4 linked regions of the Homo sapiens genome follow. The protein of the gene in region 2 purifies or fractionates together with the protein of the main gene of each other region. This does not show direct contact. Each region holds a gene or a part of one and is shown on either strand. Other genes may lie near its edges.

The links.
Region 1: the proteins of ZNF514 (region 2) and TRA2A purify together in Homo sapiens (affinity purification with mass spectrometry; one large-scale study listed by BioGRID and IntAct). This does not show direct contact.
Region 3: the proteins of ZNF514 (region 2) and SMARCAD1 purify together in Homo sapiens (affinity purification with mass spectrometry; one large-scale study listed by BioGRID and IntAct). This does not show direct contact.
Region 4: the proteins of ZNF514 (region 2) and SAFB2 purify together in Homo sapiens (affinity purification with mass spectrometry; one large-scale study listed by BioGRID and IntAct). This does not show direct contact.

The regions. Positions count from the first base shown.
Region 1 is NC_000007.14:23,525,081-23,529,060, forward strand, and holds part of TRA2A (transformer-2 protein homolog alpha), read right to left. Parts: intron 1-3,980. UniProt on the Homo sapiens protein: Sequence-specific RNA-binding protein which participates in the control of pre-mRNA splicing.
Region 2 is NC_000002.12:95,146,864-95,150,017, reverse strand, and holds part of ZNF514 (zinc finger protein 514), read left to right. Parts: coding exon 1-736; 3' UTR 737-3,154. UniProt on the Homo sapiens protein: May be involved in transcriptional regulation.
Region 3 is NC_000004.12:94,245,786-94,249,765, reverse strand, and holds part of SMARCAD1 (SWI/SNF-related matrix-associated actin-dependent regulator of chromatin subfamily A containing DEAD/H box 1), read right to left. Parts: exon of another isoform or gene 1,213-3,980; intron 113-1,212; coding exon 11-112; intron 1-10. UniProt on the Homo sapiens protein: DNA helicase that possesses intrinsic ATP-dependent nucleosome-remodeling activity and is both required for DNA repair and heterochromatin organization.
Region 4 is NC_000019.10:5,605,376-5,609,355, reverse strand, and holds part of SAFB2 (scaffold attachment factor B2), read left to right. Parts: intron 1-3,980. UniProt on the Homo sapiens protein: Binds to scaffold/matrix attachment region (S/MAR) DNA. Can function as an estrogen receptor corepressor and can also inhibit cell proliferation.

The DNA.
Region 1 (3,980 bases), on a different chromosome or scaffold from region 2:
ATAATTATTTAGAAATAAAGTAACATTTCTCAAAAGCTGTTACCAAATAAATGTCACTTTCACTGAACTCTGCATTAGGAATCAGGCTATAAGAAGTCCTTTATATAAAGAGGACAAATGCTAGGCTAATCCTTTTCTCTCTGACTCGTCTTCATTATGAAATAATTTCAACTTTTTCTCAAAGAAATTCATAAAACTATCCACAATTTGGAAAATGAATTGAAATTGCAAACAAAAAAGATTGCTGGGAATGGGTGGTATCTGCCCTGTTTCACTAGACTACTTGTTCTTAAAGCTGTCCAGTCAAGGAATCCTACCATTTCCTCAGTAATCTGGCTCCTGCATCCAATAACCATTAAAAATACACTGCCCGGTTTAAATGGGCAGATTAATAACTCAACTCGTATCATGAATTTTAACAAAAGTCTTAAATAGGCCTCCAGTCTATCTTATAGGCTATAAAGCAGAAGCCAGGCAGAAAAGTTCTTCTCACAGCACAACCTGCTTTAACAGGTTTTTGTTTTGATGTTTATTTGCTTGTTTGGTTTTTCTGTCACCCAGGCTGGAGTGCAGTGGCACAATCTTCTCATTGCAACCTCCAACTCCTGGGTTCAAGCAATTCTGCCTCAGCTTCCTGGGTAGCTGGGATTACAGGCACCCGCCATCGCACCTGGCTAACTTTTGTATTTTATTTTAGTAGAGACGGGGTTTCACCACATTGGCCAGGCTGGCCTCGAACTCCTGACCTCAAGTGATCCACCCGCCTCAGCCTCGCAAAGTGCTGGGATTACAGGCATGAGCCACTGCACCCGGCCTGCTTGTTTAAACTATTCTTTATTATCAAGATGACCCTGCTGTTGGTTGAAGGAAATGGCCAAAAATTAAAAGGAGGGAACTAACTAAAACACTAAGAAAGTGTTATAGTGTAACCAATACAAGCTGGTTAAGAATTGTCTTTCTGTGTTAAAATAGAGTTGTATTTTACACACTGTGAATAACCACAATAACCATGTACTATTCTTTTAATCAGGAAAAGGGTTATTATATACATGTACACAATGTTGCGGAACATGAACAATTCCTACAGCAAGCAATAACTGCAGTCTTTTAATATAGCCTGTGTCATACTATAAAAAGAAATTCCAACACAATATATATATGTGCTATCCATTAAAATAAATAAACTATTAAATGCTATACTGTAACTTACTCTAACATTAAGGCCAGGCAAATTCTATGCCATTTAATAGGGCCAAATTTACTCAAGTCCAAGTCTATGAGTATAAGCTTGTAAAACAGACTTACTAAAAATGTATTTTCCTGCTACTTTATGACACTGGCGCTCTATTTCCATAGATACACACTAGTGCATTGAGGAAAATCACAAGTACCCAAAAAGAAGGGAAATGTACCGAAATTATTCAAATACCTTACAATATTCATTTTACTACTTACTAAAGAACTTCTTTAGGAGTTGTAAAAAACCTGTATTTACTCAACCTCAGCCTATAGAAAGAACAACAGTTCTGCTTCCTTCCCCTTGAGTATGGGAGAATACTCTTACAGACCCCTATGAAGTTAAAGCAACACTTCCATTATCTTCTTAAACCGTAACTGCTATTAGAACAAATCCCTTAAAAAGAAGATAGCGACTGCTCATATTAAATTGAAATAATAATTTCCCTTCTTTTAAATGCAGCATGCCTATATGCTGCATTCTGAAGTCAATGTGGTCTTTATCTGCAAAGACTCAAACATATTCTAATTCTGTATGTTTCCTTATTCTCTAAAATTTAGAAGTCTTATCATAAATACATGATTTAGTAACTGACACCCACATATAATCAAATTTAAACTCATGCCATAATTGTGAAATCACCTGTAAAATTTATAATCTTTTGTACAAATTTTAAACGTGGTTCATAAGTCTCATAGCTTATATATCCTGATCAATTGTAATGTTCAAAAAACTAATGTATAAGTGGCAATTTCAAAGGTAGAAAAAACAAGTTTGTAAGGACTAATGTGATTTAACATTATGTTCTAATCTTCTGGAGTTATACAGTATTTATGAATCTTGGTAAGTCAGATGATAGGGTCCTGGTTTCAAGGAAAGATCACAACTTTTCTTCTACATATCAGTCAGGCCTAGTCACTCCATCTTTGGTGAAAGTCATGGGACAGTAAGGATTATATATAACTATATATATAAGTAACTTAAAAGGAGGGAAGGGAAACCATATTTCCCTTTAGTATTCTCCTCTCAACTTTTCTTCAGTGTATACAATCTTTCCCTCATCTAGTTGTTACTATTTTTTTCACCTCCATGCCTGTCTTGCTAAATTTGTGAGGACATATGAACAAATAGCAATCAGTTTTAATTCATTAGCACGTGAATACACATCTTTTAGTTATCTAATGGGTGAGCACCCACTGATACTATCAAAGAAAGTTTTCTGCCAGTCAAGTTCTAGGAAACTACTATGCTGATTATTGATGACATTTCACACTTCTTATAATACACATGCTACATCGTAGGTTAGAGTTTGGTTGATTTACAAAATTAAGCCCACAGACAAAGTGTTTTCCAAACCACACATCCCTAAATATTTAAATCCCTGGACATTCTTTCAGATCTCAAGGTTCTATATTCCATTTAATGAGTGGTACAAAGTATAAGCCTCTATGACAGATCTGTAAAATTAGTTATGCGCTGTGGGTATAATTACTTGCACTGCTCCTTTTCAAAATCTTGCCCTCTACTTATATTGAGCAGATCAACATCCTTCAGTGAAAGAACCTCAAATATAAAAATTTGAGATTTTAATTTTTTTTAAGTTTACAAATTCTTTGCTTAAATGGAAGGGGAGAGGAGAACAACTGAAAGCATTAAAATCAGATAAATGATAGTACTTAAATTTAGGAAAATAGATTAAACCCAAGACTCTCTTAGGTTAACACTATCCCTACTATAAGAAAGAAAGCTTTACCCTTATGTAAGGTCAATTTGATGATATATGGAATTAAATTGCTAAAGACGCTGAATAAGCAAAATGCTATGACATCTCTCACATTTATCTTAAAACTTCATACACAAAAAAATTTTAAGCCCAATTTAAAAGTTCTGTGTTTTTTTTTGTTTTGTTTTTGAGACGAGTCTCGCTCTATTGCCAGGCTGGAGTGCAGTGGCCGACCTCGGCTCACTGCAACCTCCGCCTCCCGGGTTCAAGTGATTCTCTGCCTCACCCTCCCGAGTAGCTGGGACTACAGACGCGCGCCACCACGCCCAGCTAATTTTTGTATTTTTAGTAGAGACTGTATTTCACCATATTGGCCAGGATGGTCTCCATCTCTTGACCTTGTGATCCGCCCGCCTCAGCCTCCCAAAGCGCTGGGATTACAGGCGTGAGCCACCGGGCCGGCCTTGTTTTGTTTTTAAACAAGCCAGTCACAGGCCTGGGTTTTGATAGTCATCATCCCTATCATTCTCAGATTTCAGAAAAGGACCCTCCCCCTATTTCTTCTATTTTTAACAAAAAATCTATACACACAAATCTTTTAATTCCAAATTGATACAGATAAATTTGTTTGCCTTTTTTTTTTTCGAGACAGAGTCTTGCTCTGTCGCCCAGGCTGGAGTGCAGTGATGCGATCTCGGCTCACTGCAACCTCTGCCTCCCGGGTTTAAGCAATTCTCCCACCTCAGCCTCCTAAGTAGCTAGGATTACAGGCATGTGCCACCCCGCAGGGCCTGTAGGAGTCTCTCAAAAATACTCCAGCTACTCAAGAAGCCAGAAGAAATCCTGAAAAGGAGGCAATAAGAAGCGGTATTTTTCCTCTTCAACTGTAGAAAACATAAATAACTCTGGAATTACAAGATAGGTCCCTAACAATAAAGAATCATTAACCTCCATGATCAACACTGGGATGCTGTATGAAAATTGCACATTTTTATAAAGTACAGTTCTTAAAATTTTAGG
Region 2 (3,154 bases):
TGGGAGAAGCTTAGGTTTAAGATCAGTCCTTGTTAACCAACACAGCATTCTCATGGGAGAAGGATCTTATAAATGTGATACAGAATTCAGGCAGACTTTAGGGGGAAACAACTCTCAGAGAACCCACCCAGAAAAGAAATCTTGTAAATGTAATGAGTGTGGGAAGTCCTTTCACTTCCAGTCAGAACTTAGGCGCCATCAGCGATGTCACACTGGAGAAAAGCCGTATGAATGCAGTGACTGTGGAAGAGCCTTTGGTCATATTTCATCCCTTATTAAACATCAAAGAACTCATACTGGAGAAAAGCCCTATGAATGCAGTGAATGTGGGAGAGCCTTCAGCCAGAGTTCGTCTCTTGTTCTGCACTATAGATTTCACACTGGAGAGAAACCCTACAAATGTAATGAATGTGGACGAGCCTTTGGTCACACTTCATCCCTTATTAAGCATCAGAGGACTCATACTGGAGAAAAGCCCTATGAATGCCGGGAATGTGGGAGAACCTTCAGCCAGAGCTCATCACTCATTGTGCATTACAGATTTCATACTGGAGAGAAACCTTACAAATGTAATAAATGTGGGAGAGCCTTCAGCCAGAGTTCATCTCTCACTCAACATTACAGATTTCACACTGGAGAGAAACCCTACAAATGTAATGAGTGTGGAAGGGCCTTTGCTCATACTGCATCCCTTATTAAACATCAGAGAAGTCATGCTGGAAAAAAAACCCTATAAATTCAGTGAATATAGAAGGGCTTTCAGCTGGAGTGCAGACATCACTGGAACTTAAAGAATTCATATCAGAGAGAGATCCTAAAGGTGTAATGTATGTGGGAAGACCACATCTTGTTCCACATCAGGCAATAATTACTAAAGAGAATCCCTGTCAATGTCAAGAGGGGGTGGGCTTCCCCTCTCTTACCAAACATGGGAGAATCCATACTAGTGAGAAACCACGTGAATGTAATGAATGTGGGAACGCTTTGATCAGAGGATGCATATTATTCAGCATCAGACAGCCGACACTGGGGAGGAGCCTTATCAATGCAGTGAGTGTGGCAAGCCTTCAGTTACATACTGATTCTTTAAGAAAATCAGATAACTTGTACTGGAGAGAAATCCTACAAGTGTGGTAAGTATGGAAAAATCTTCAGTTGTATCTCTTCCTTTACTAAGCATCAAGAACACATACTAGAGAGAGGCCCTATGAAAGCAGGAAATAGAGGAAGGCCTTCAGTCAGGGCTCATCCCTTATTAAGCATCAGAAAATTCATACCTGAGAAAAACCTGTGAATGTGGGTAATGTGGGAGAGCCTTCAGCCAAACCTCATTGCTTTATAAACCCCTTAGAACTCTCCCTACTAGCTGGAAACTCTGGTGACGTGATGAATGTGGGAAGGGCTTTGGTGGATGTTCCACCAAAACACGTTAGAGAATTTGTACATTAGAGAATTTGTGCTAGAGCAACTCTTCAAATTTAGTGAAACTGGGAAAACCCATTAGTAGAGTTCAAGCTTCAGTATTCATCTCAAAGAGAAACCTTGGGAACATGATGAATGTGAGGAAAGTTCCTTTCCAACTTGAGATGTATAAAACTAGAGCTGAAAAGAAGCTGAGAAATCACCTTGTCTGGTGATTTTCTGCCTGGTGGGGCCATTTGTATAACGACACTTGTGCATTGCCTCCTCATGCTGTTACTGACGGGGCAGGGTGTCATGCATGGGTGCAGAGGATGGAGGCTGAGAAAGGTAGACAGCTACCCATGATCTAGCCCAGTCGTATTTTAGAGCTAATAAAACTGATGTTCAGAAAGTGACATGCCTTGGCCTATAGTCCTAACTGGGCTGGGCCTCTTTCCTGTGGTTCACAGCTGTAGTATGGAGATTAATAGACTGGATCTTTGCAGTACAACACCTCTATGCACTTCTTTCTCTGTAGCACATGTTACCTTTCTTTGTGAGGCAATGGAGTGGTCTAGGATTGAGCAAAAAGCAATTTTTGTTACATCTTTATGCTAATAGATTTGGAATTTTTGAAATGAAATGAAACCTTGTTTAAACATTAAAATTACTAAAATAGGCTGGGCGCGGTGGCTCACGCCTGTAACCTCAGCACTTTGGGAGGCCGAGGCGGACAGATCACGAGGTCAGGAGTTCGAGACCATCCTGGCTAACACAGTGAAACCCTGTCTCTCCTAAAAATACAAAAAAATTAGCCAGGCATGGTGGCGGGCGCCTGTAGTCCCAGCTACTTGGAAGGCTGAGACAGGAGAATGGCGTGAATCGGGGAGGCAGAGCTTGCAGTCAGCCGAGATCACGCCACTGCACTCCAGCCTGGGAGACAGAGTGAGACTCCGTCTCAGAAAAAAAAAAAAAAAACAACTAAAATATGGGTATTATGCACAATCCAGATCTCAAAAACGTGATTCTAAGTGAAAGAAGGCAGATGCCAGAGACCAGGTATTTTCTAGTACCATTTTAGGAAATGTCCAGAAATGGCAGATCTTCAGAAACAAAGTAACTGCAAATGTTACAAGGAATCTTTTTAGGGTGACGAAAATGTTCTAAAACTAGATGGTGGTGATGGTTGAACGATTTGGTAACTTCACTAAAAATCATTGAATTGTTCACTTTATATGGGCAGATTTTATGGTAAATATACCTCAATAAAATCATTTTTCAAAATCAAATTTACACATATACCAACCATTGCTAAACAAGTATTCCTGTTTTGTTTGTTACTTCAAGCCATCTATGCATTTTTGGTATCACTTTTTATTTTCTGTAACAGTTACCCCTACATTTACTGGGTCTCAGAACCTTGTCAGGCTCTGCTTTAAAGTTCCTACCATGTTGGCTCTGTAACTCAGGTGGAGAAGCCTAGACCAGGAGCTGGCGTAGACCAAAGGATACTTGCCTAATAAGGATTAGCTTATACTGAGGAAAATACTTTAAGCATTTAAAGTCCAGATGAGGAAGTTGAGCCCAGAATTCAGGGAACCAGCTCAAAGTGGGCCCATGCAGACAGGCTGGGTCTAAGAGTCCACAAGGTTGGCCAGGGCAGGTAGGATGCACAGGAGGCATCTGGATCTGGAAGTACTTGGACAGCTGAGGTCAAGATCACACAGAAATTTATTCCTGGACAGCCAAGGTT
Region 3 (3,980 bases), on a different chromosome or scaffold from region 2:
GACTACTCACCTGTTTATCAAAATTGGGAAATTCCTTTTGCAATTTCAGTACAATACTTTCCTGCTTTTCCCAATTACTGCTAGATTCTGCAGACTCATTTGATTCCTCTCCCTAATGGGGAGAAAAAAAAAAGAAAACAATTTAAGAGATATCAATAACAATGGTCTTAAGGCAATTATCATTGTATTTTGACTTGATCTGAAAATTATCATCATCAGTCAGAAGAATCCAAACTGTTTCTTTTTGTTTCTGTGAACATTGACATATTTATGTCTTTAAGGATGAAAAATATTGCTGACTTAAGATCACTGAAAGACCCTGATTGCATATCCGGTAACTCAAACTTTATTCTCAGTGCTTAAAATGAGATAAATCTCCTAAAAAACTAGAATGATCCTCAAATTAACTCAATATAATTCAAGTATACTGATGCCTTCTCCAAGACAACGGTAAATTTTAAAAGGATACAAATATCTCATCTATGTTCACTATTATATATCCACCTATAAATTTCAAATTCTGAGAAGAGTTTACTTTTACTTCACTCTTGATTCACAGAATGGCTTAAATATTAATTGTTCAGTCACAACATAAAACTGAAACAATGATAAAAGGAATTTAAGTGGAACTAAATAATGTATAAACCGAACAGATTAATTAATATGAGAATTGTGGCTATACATAGTCTCACTTTTCCTTCTTCTCTGTCACTTAACTTCACTTGAAGAAACTGGTTAAAGTCCACATTTAAGCAAAAAGAAAAGACTCCTTGTGTTCATGCATAGGAAAAATTTTAGTCAATCAAAAAGCATTTTTCTACTCTGCTTAGAACTGCACCACATGCTATACACACAAGATGGAGAAAAATACAATCTTCTTCTTCAACCTCCTTTATTATCCAACAACTGAATTGCTATTTTTCTCTTTCAGTACCTTAGATAGAAATAACTAAATTCTGATACCTCCTCTGCACAATGGAGTAAAATAAAATTTCATAAAACAGAGACCAATAAAATGCTATGGATATCTGGACTAAAGAAGAAAATTGCATGTGTTTCATAATACTAAGTGGTCTACTTGGGCTCAAATGCAGAGAATGTTAATAGGTTACAAGGATGAAGAATTAAACCAGAGCTAACATGGAATAAAGCCTAAGGTTAGTCTTTTTTAAGAAGCAACAGGATTTTGAGCAGGGGAATAATAAGACATACTGGTGAAACCCATCTGGAGAAACCATTTCAAAATCTTCAAAATTCATACTGCCACCTTTACAGCCCAGGCACACTGAAATTCCAAGAACAGTATTTTAAAGCTCACAGATGGACAACAACCAGCTGAGGAGGGAACAGATCCAAGTATCTAACTCTAGACCACTGCTTTTTCACTACATAAGTGAAAACTAAACTTCAGTTGTTCATTTGTTAATATATCAAATGTGCGTCATGGACAAATTGTGGTAAACACATAAAATGGAATATCACTAAGTCATAAAAAAGAATGAAGTACTGATACACACCACAACATGAATGAACATTGTAGTATATCTGAAAGCATTATGCTATGTAAGAGGCTAATAAAAAAGAACAAAATCATGTTCTTCGCAGCAACACAGATGTAGCTGGAAACCATTTCCTAAGCAAGCTAATGTGGAATCAGAAAAATCAAATACCACATTTCCCACTTATAAATGGGAGCTAAACATTGGGTACACGTGTTCATAAAAATGAGAACAACAGACACTGGGGAACACAAGAAGGCGGAGGGAGGATGTGGGGGAAGAGTTAAGGAAAACTACCTATGGAGTACTATCCTTACTATCTGGGTGACAGATTCATTCATACTTCAAACTTCAGCATCACGCAATATACGTTTGTAACAAACTTGCACATGTACCCCAATTCTAACATAAAGTTGAAAAAAGAAAAAACAAATAAAACACATTTTTCTGAAATTAAAAAATAAGAGGCTAGACATAAAAGGTTACATATTATATAATTCCACCTAAATGAAATGTTCAGAATAGGTAAATCCAGAGACTGAAGGCAGATTGGCGGTTGCCAGGGGTTAGGGGGAGGAGGGAATGGGGAGAAACTGCTTAATGGGTATAGCATGCTATTACGAGGTGATGACAGCGTTTGGAACTAGACAGGAATGATGGTATACAACACTGTGAATGTACTAAATAGCATTAAATAGTTCACTCTAAAATGGTTAATTTTATGCTATGTGAATTTCACCTCAATAAAAAAATACATAAAATATCTGGAAAACAGTAAACAGCTCTTCGGAATCAAATATTTAGTAGATGGTGTGCCTATCATGTGTTGTTTGCTCTTGGGTCCCACACTTATGCCAGCTCTGCTTATCCCTGGTGACTGAATATACTCATGTGGTCCAGGAGGTTACACAGACACTTTACAAAAGCTAGCTGATAAAATTTGGGACTGTATCTGTCTCAGCGGGCCCAAGGGATATGATTCGACCCAGTGCTTATTTTTCCATCTCCAGAATCATAGTTGGAACAGACATATTTGGCACTGGCAGAAATCCCATACTATATCAGTTCCCTGACCCATGATGTATGGGCTACTATTATAGGAAACACCAAATCCAAGTCCCTAGAATTGTCCCTCTCAATCAAAACAATAAGCAATTACTACAGTCCTAAAGGAACTGCAGATATTGACACCACCATCCCATCCCAATGTAAGATGCCTCCTTGACCTATACAAAAAGTAGATGAGTCTTGCAAGTATTTAAGAGTATCATAAACAATCAAACTCCAGCTGCAGCTGCTTTACAGGATGTGGTATTTTTGCTGGAGCAAATCAATATGGCTATGCAGTTATCAATCAAGTACTTGCTTTTTCCCCTTTCCCAATTAGATCAAACAGAAACAATCCGTTTTTATCTTGGCAGGTTTAATGATATACCTTCAGTCTTCAGAGTTAGAGTAACTTTCCTGGCTCTCTCAAATAATACAGTACTCATGGACTTAGATGGTTTTGCACAGTCTAGAGAGTATCACTTGATCCACTATACTGACATCATGTTGACTGGACTTGATACAGGTAGTGGGTATTTTCAATGGTACTGGTCAGATACGTACATGCCACATATCAGGGTGAAGGAATAACCATCCTCACTCTGAGGCCCACCACTTTCGTGGGAGTGTAGTCTGGAGCATGTTGCAAACTCCACTCTTAAGAAAAAAGAAAGGCCGCACCTATCTGCCTCTTTAGACTGGACATTGGGAGCTCACTGCACACTGGAGGCAAGATATACTTCATTAGGGTGTGTACTGCTTGATTCATTTTATAAAATACCTCTTAAGATTGTCAGTTATGGCTGGGCACGCTGGCTCACGCTTGTAATCCCAGCACTCTGGGAGGCTGAGGCGGGTGGATCACGAGGTCAGGAGTTTGAGACCAGCCTGGCCAACACAGTGAAACACCGTTTCTACTAAAAATACAAAAAATTAGCCAGGCGTGGTGGCAGGCACCTGTAATCCCAGCTACTCGGGAGGCTGAGGTGGGAGAATTGCTTGAACCCGGGAGGCGGAGGTTGCGGTGAGCCAGGATCATGCCATTGCACTCCAGCCCAGACAACAGTGCGAGACTCCATCTCAAAAGAAAAAAAAAAAAAAAAGAATGTCAGTTATGAATGGGGCCCAGGTTAAGAGACGGCTCTGTACCAGGTCCAGAGTGCAATACAAGGTACTCCGCCACTTGGGTTTCGTGACCAGCAGATGCAATGATTCTCCAAGAATCTGTTGCAGGTAAGGATGTTGTATGAAGTCTTTGGCAAGCCCCAGTGGGAAAATCGTTTTAGAGAGTTTTAAAGAAAGGTCATCATGTCCTCTTCTACTGACCACAGTCAGTTTTGCTGTGACACATATATTTCCAAAAATTACTGCATTATGCAAAATTGTTAAAAATTGCAGCCTTTAGGAGAAAAACTGTTAGAGATACAATGTCAA
Region 4 (3,980 bases), on a different chromosome or scaffold from region 2:
CTCCAGCCTGGGTAACAGAGCGAGACTATGTCATAAAAAAAAAAAAAAAAAAAAAGAATGAAGTGAATAATTGACTTTCATATCATTTAGCATTTTAAGTATATAGTCTCATAACTAGAACATGATCGTGGTTCAAAAATAAATCACTAAGATGCTGCTCATGGGGGTGGGAGAAAAATAGTACAATTCAGCAGCTTTCCAAAGGAAGGTGAGGACAATTTAAAATGATTCCACTGTTTGAAATTAATTAAGAGTCTTCTTTTTTTGTTTGTTTGTTGTTCTTTTTTTTTTTTTTTTTTTTTTTGAGACTGCGTCTCGCTCTGTTGCCCAGGCTGAAGTGCAGTGGTGTGATCTTGGCTCACTGCAGCCTCCGCCTCCCTCCCAGGTTCAAGTGATTCTCGTGCCTTAGCTTCTCGAGTAGCTGGGATTACAGGCACCCACCACCATGCCTGGCTAATTTTTGTATTTTCAGTAGAGATGGGGTTTCGCCATGTTGGCCAGACTGGTCTCCAACTCCTGACCTATGTGATCTGCCTGCTTGGCCTCCCAAAATGCTGGGATTACAGGCGTGAGCCACCGCGCCTAGCCAAGAGTCTTCTGGTAAGCAATTGGCACTGCCCTGGTCTCCTGGGTGCCTCTGGGGAGTGGCTTCCAAGGGACAAGGTTCGGACCATTTAGTGTCTGGAGGGTGCCCTGATTCCAGGCAGAGTGGGCCCTGTCTGACACAGTTTTCTGGCTACAGAAGCCGTTCCTTTGTCTAGGTCTGTGTCACCCGATCAGGTGTTGGTTAATGTTTCATTGCTTAAGAAGCGGACAGGACCCGGAGAAAGCGTGCTGTTCAATTTTTCTCTGAACAGTCTGTGTGTTCAGCAAGGGCTTAGGAAATTCTTATAGCCATGAATAACCTGTTTATTCAGTTACTTTGTTGACTTCACTCGGACACTGATGATTAAGCAGAGGTAAACATACGTGGTCACTGTCATCACAGATTTTTTAGTCTGGCGGGAAAAAGACCATTTAAGAAATAAACACATATGATGTGTTGTGATGAGCGTATTAAGGAATATTAGAGCACGCCGTCAGTGTGTTGGGGAGGCCGTGTTTAGATTTGGGAGGCAGCTTCAGCAGAGCTCGCTGAAGAAGTGACATTCAGCTGAGGCGTGAGTGACAGAGTTGGCCTTACCTGTGGGGCTCAGCTCTGGACAAAAACAGAAGGACGTAGGAAGGCCAGAGGGGCAGGACACCACTCAGCTACTTGACTGAAGTATGCAGAGCCTCCAGGGCGGATGGCATAGCTCAGGGATAGGGACATACAAGCTTAGTATGGTGCCTGCTCTCATTTGGGTTTTGTCTGTCATCAGAAGAGATATACTTGTAAGGATGATTAATTTGATGGGAAGGTAGAATGGGAAGTGGCATCTGTGTTTCTCTCAGGAGAGTCTTCTGTCCCTTTGGCCCTGGACAGATTCAGGCAGAGCCTTGACTCCTCCATTTGTGTGGTCAAAACCAAGGACGTCAGATGGGAACCTCAAGCTTGTGGGTTCCACCTTGTCATTTCACAGTTGGGGCCATGAGGTCCAGAGACGGGGAATGCCTTGCTTAGGTTGATGCCCTGAGTCAGAGATAGGGCAGAGACCAGGACTCCTGTGTCCCGGGGAAATGTTTACTCTGCGCGCCAGTGGTGGTGGGCTTGGCGTTAGATCTACTGTCTTGTTCTCTATTTTCTGTTCATGTTTGTTTATTGATCTCTTTTTCCCATTTATCTGCCTTCTTGTGGGTCGAGTCCTTTTTATGACTGATGGCTTATTTGCTCTAACTCTGTGTCATTGTGGTTTACTGTAGGATTACAGTACACATCTTCCCTTACAGTCTGTCTGCAAGGGGTGCTCTGTTGGTTTCAGCGTAGTGCAAGAACTCTGTGGGAATATACTTGCATTTCCCCTCCCGTCGATCTTTGTGATGTTATTGTCATACGGTTTACTTCTCTTTAAGAAGTCACCCAATATTTTATTGGCTTTGACTTGTTGTGGTTTGGCTTTTTTGCTTTGAACAGTTGTGTTTTTTTTTGTTTTTGTTTTTGTTTTTGTTTGTTTTTGAGACGGAGTCTCGCTCTGTCGCCTAGGCTGGAGTGCAGTGGCGCGATCTCGGCTCACTGCAAGCTCTGCCTCCTGGGTTCATGCCATTCTCCTGCCTCAGCCTCCCAAGTAGCTGGAACTACAGGTGCCCGCCACCAGGCCTGGCTAATTTTTTGTATTTTAAGTAGAGATGGGGTTTCACTGTGTTAGTCAGGATGGTCTTGATCTCCTGACCTCGTGATCCTCCCACCTCGGCCTCCCAAAGTGCTGAGATTACAGGCGTGAGCCACCACGCCCAGCCAAACAGTTATATTTTAAAGAGACCCAGAAATGACAGGAAAAAATCATGTTCACCTCACCAGGTGCTCTTCGTTGCTTTTTGTTGTATATCCAAGTTCCCATCGGAGATCATCTTCCTCCCTCCTGAAGGAATTGAATGTTTCCTGTAGTGCAGGTTTGCTGGTGATACGTTCTTGTTTCTTTTGCATGTCAGAAAAAGTCTTTACTTTGTCTTCATTTTGAAATAAATTTTCACTGGGTATAGAATTCTAGGTTAATTTAATCTTTGTTCCTTCAGTTACCAATTTGTGTCTTTTCTCTCTCTTTTTCTGTGGCTGCTTTTAAGTTTCTTCTGGTTTTTTTGTTTTGTTTTGTTTTCCCTTAGAGACAGGATCTCACTGTGTCACCCAGGCTGGAGTACAGTGGTGCTCACTGCAGCCTCGAGCTCCCGGGCTCAAGCGATCCTCTCACCTCAGCCTCCTGAGTAGCTGAGACCACAGGCATGTACCACTACACCCAGCTAATTTTTAAAATTTTTGGTACAGATGTGGTTTCTCTGTGTTGCCCAGGCTGGTTTTGAACACCTGGCCTCAAGTGATCTACCTGCCTTGGCCTCACAAAGTGCTGGGATTACAGGCATGAGCCACTGTGCCCAGCCTGTGCCTGGTAATTTTTTACTGGATGTTGTGAATTGTATTTTTTGGGTGCTAGTTATACTTGTATCTCTACAAATACCCTTGAGCTTTTTTCTGGGACACAGCTGAGGTACTGGACACACACTAAGGCAGGGCCAAAGTAGCCTTCAGTTTGGGCTGATTTTGTCTCACCACTGGGCAGTGCCCTCTGAGTAGTGGGTCTGATGGCCCGTGAATTACCAGCCTTTCCACCCTGGCTATTGGGAAGAGCAAACCATTTGTGGCCCTGAGTGCCCCTCCAGTGGTTGTTCCCTCTGCTCCTGATTGTTCCCTCTGCTCCTTATGGGTGGTGCTGTCCCAGCCTCTGGTTTCCTCGCACACGTGTGCACTGGGTGGGAGGAACCCTCTGTGGGTCTCTTCAGCTTGCTCTGCGTGGCTCTGTGTGGCTGTGTCCTCTCTGATACTCAGTTCCGTGATTTCTCTCTGTCTTGGTCTCAGAATCTCAGTGCTGTCTTACCCATCCCCCATTGCCTGGGAATCTAGGCAGTGAGCAGGGGCAGTCAGGGAGCTCTCAGGGATTGTTGTCTTGGGCAGCCTGATGTCCAGGATCTGAAAACTGTCGTTGCCTACGTTTCATCACATTTGTTAGTTGTTTCAGGCAGGAAGACAATGCTTAGTTCTCCCATCTCAGCCAGAAGTGGAAGTCCTTTCCCCATGGGGACATTTCTGACAGTCCATGTCTGTGTCAGAGCTCTTCTCAGGCCCAGCTGGAGTGGATGGGTGCATTTCTTAGTAGCCCCACAGCTGTTTGTGGGCACAGTGGAAATAGAGAAAACAATGTGGATGGGTAGGACTTCTGGTTATTAGTTGTGAGTAATGAAGTTTAATGGTTTTATAACCTTGCATGTTTGTGTGTTTTCCTTGTGATGACTTATCTTGTATTAAAAGCAGTTGTATTTAGTGGCTGGGTGCGGTGTCTCATGCCTGTAAT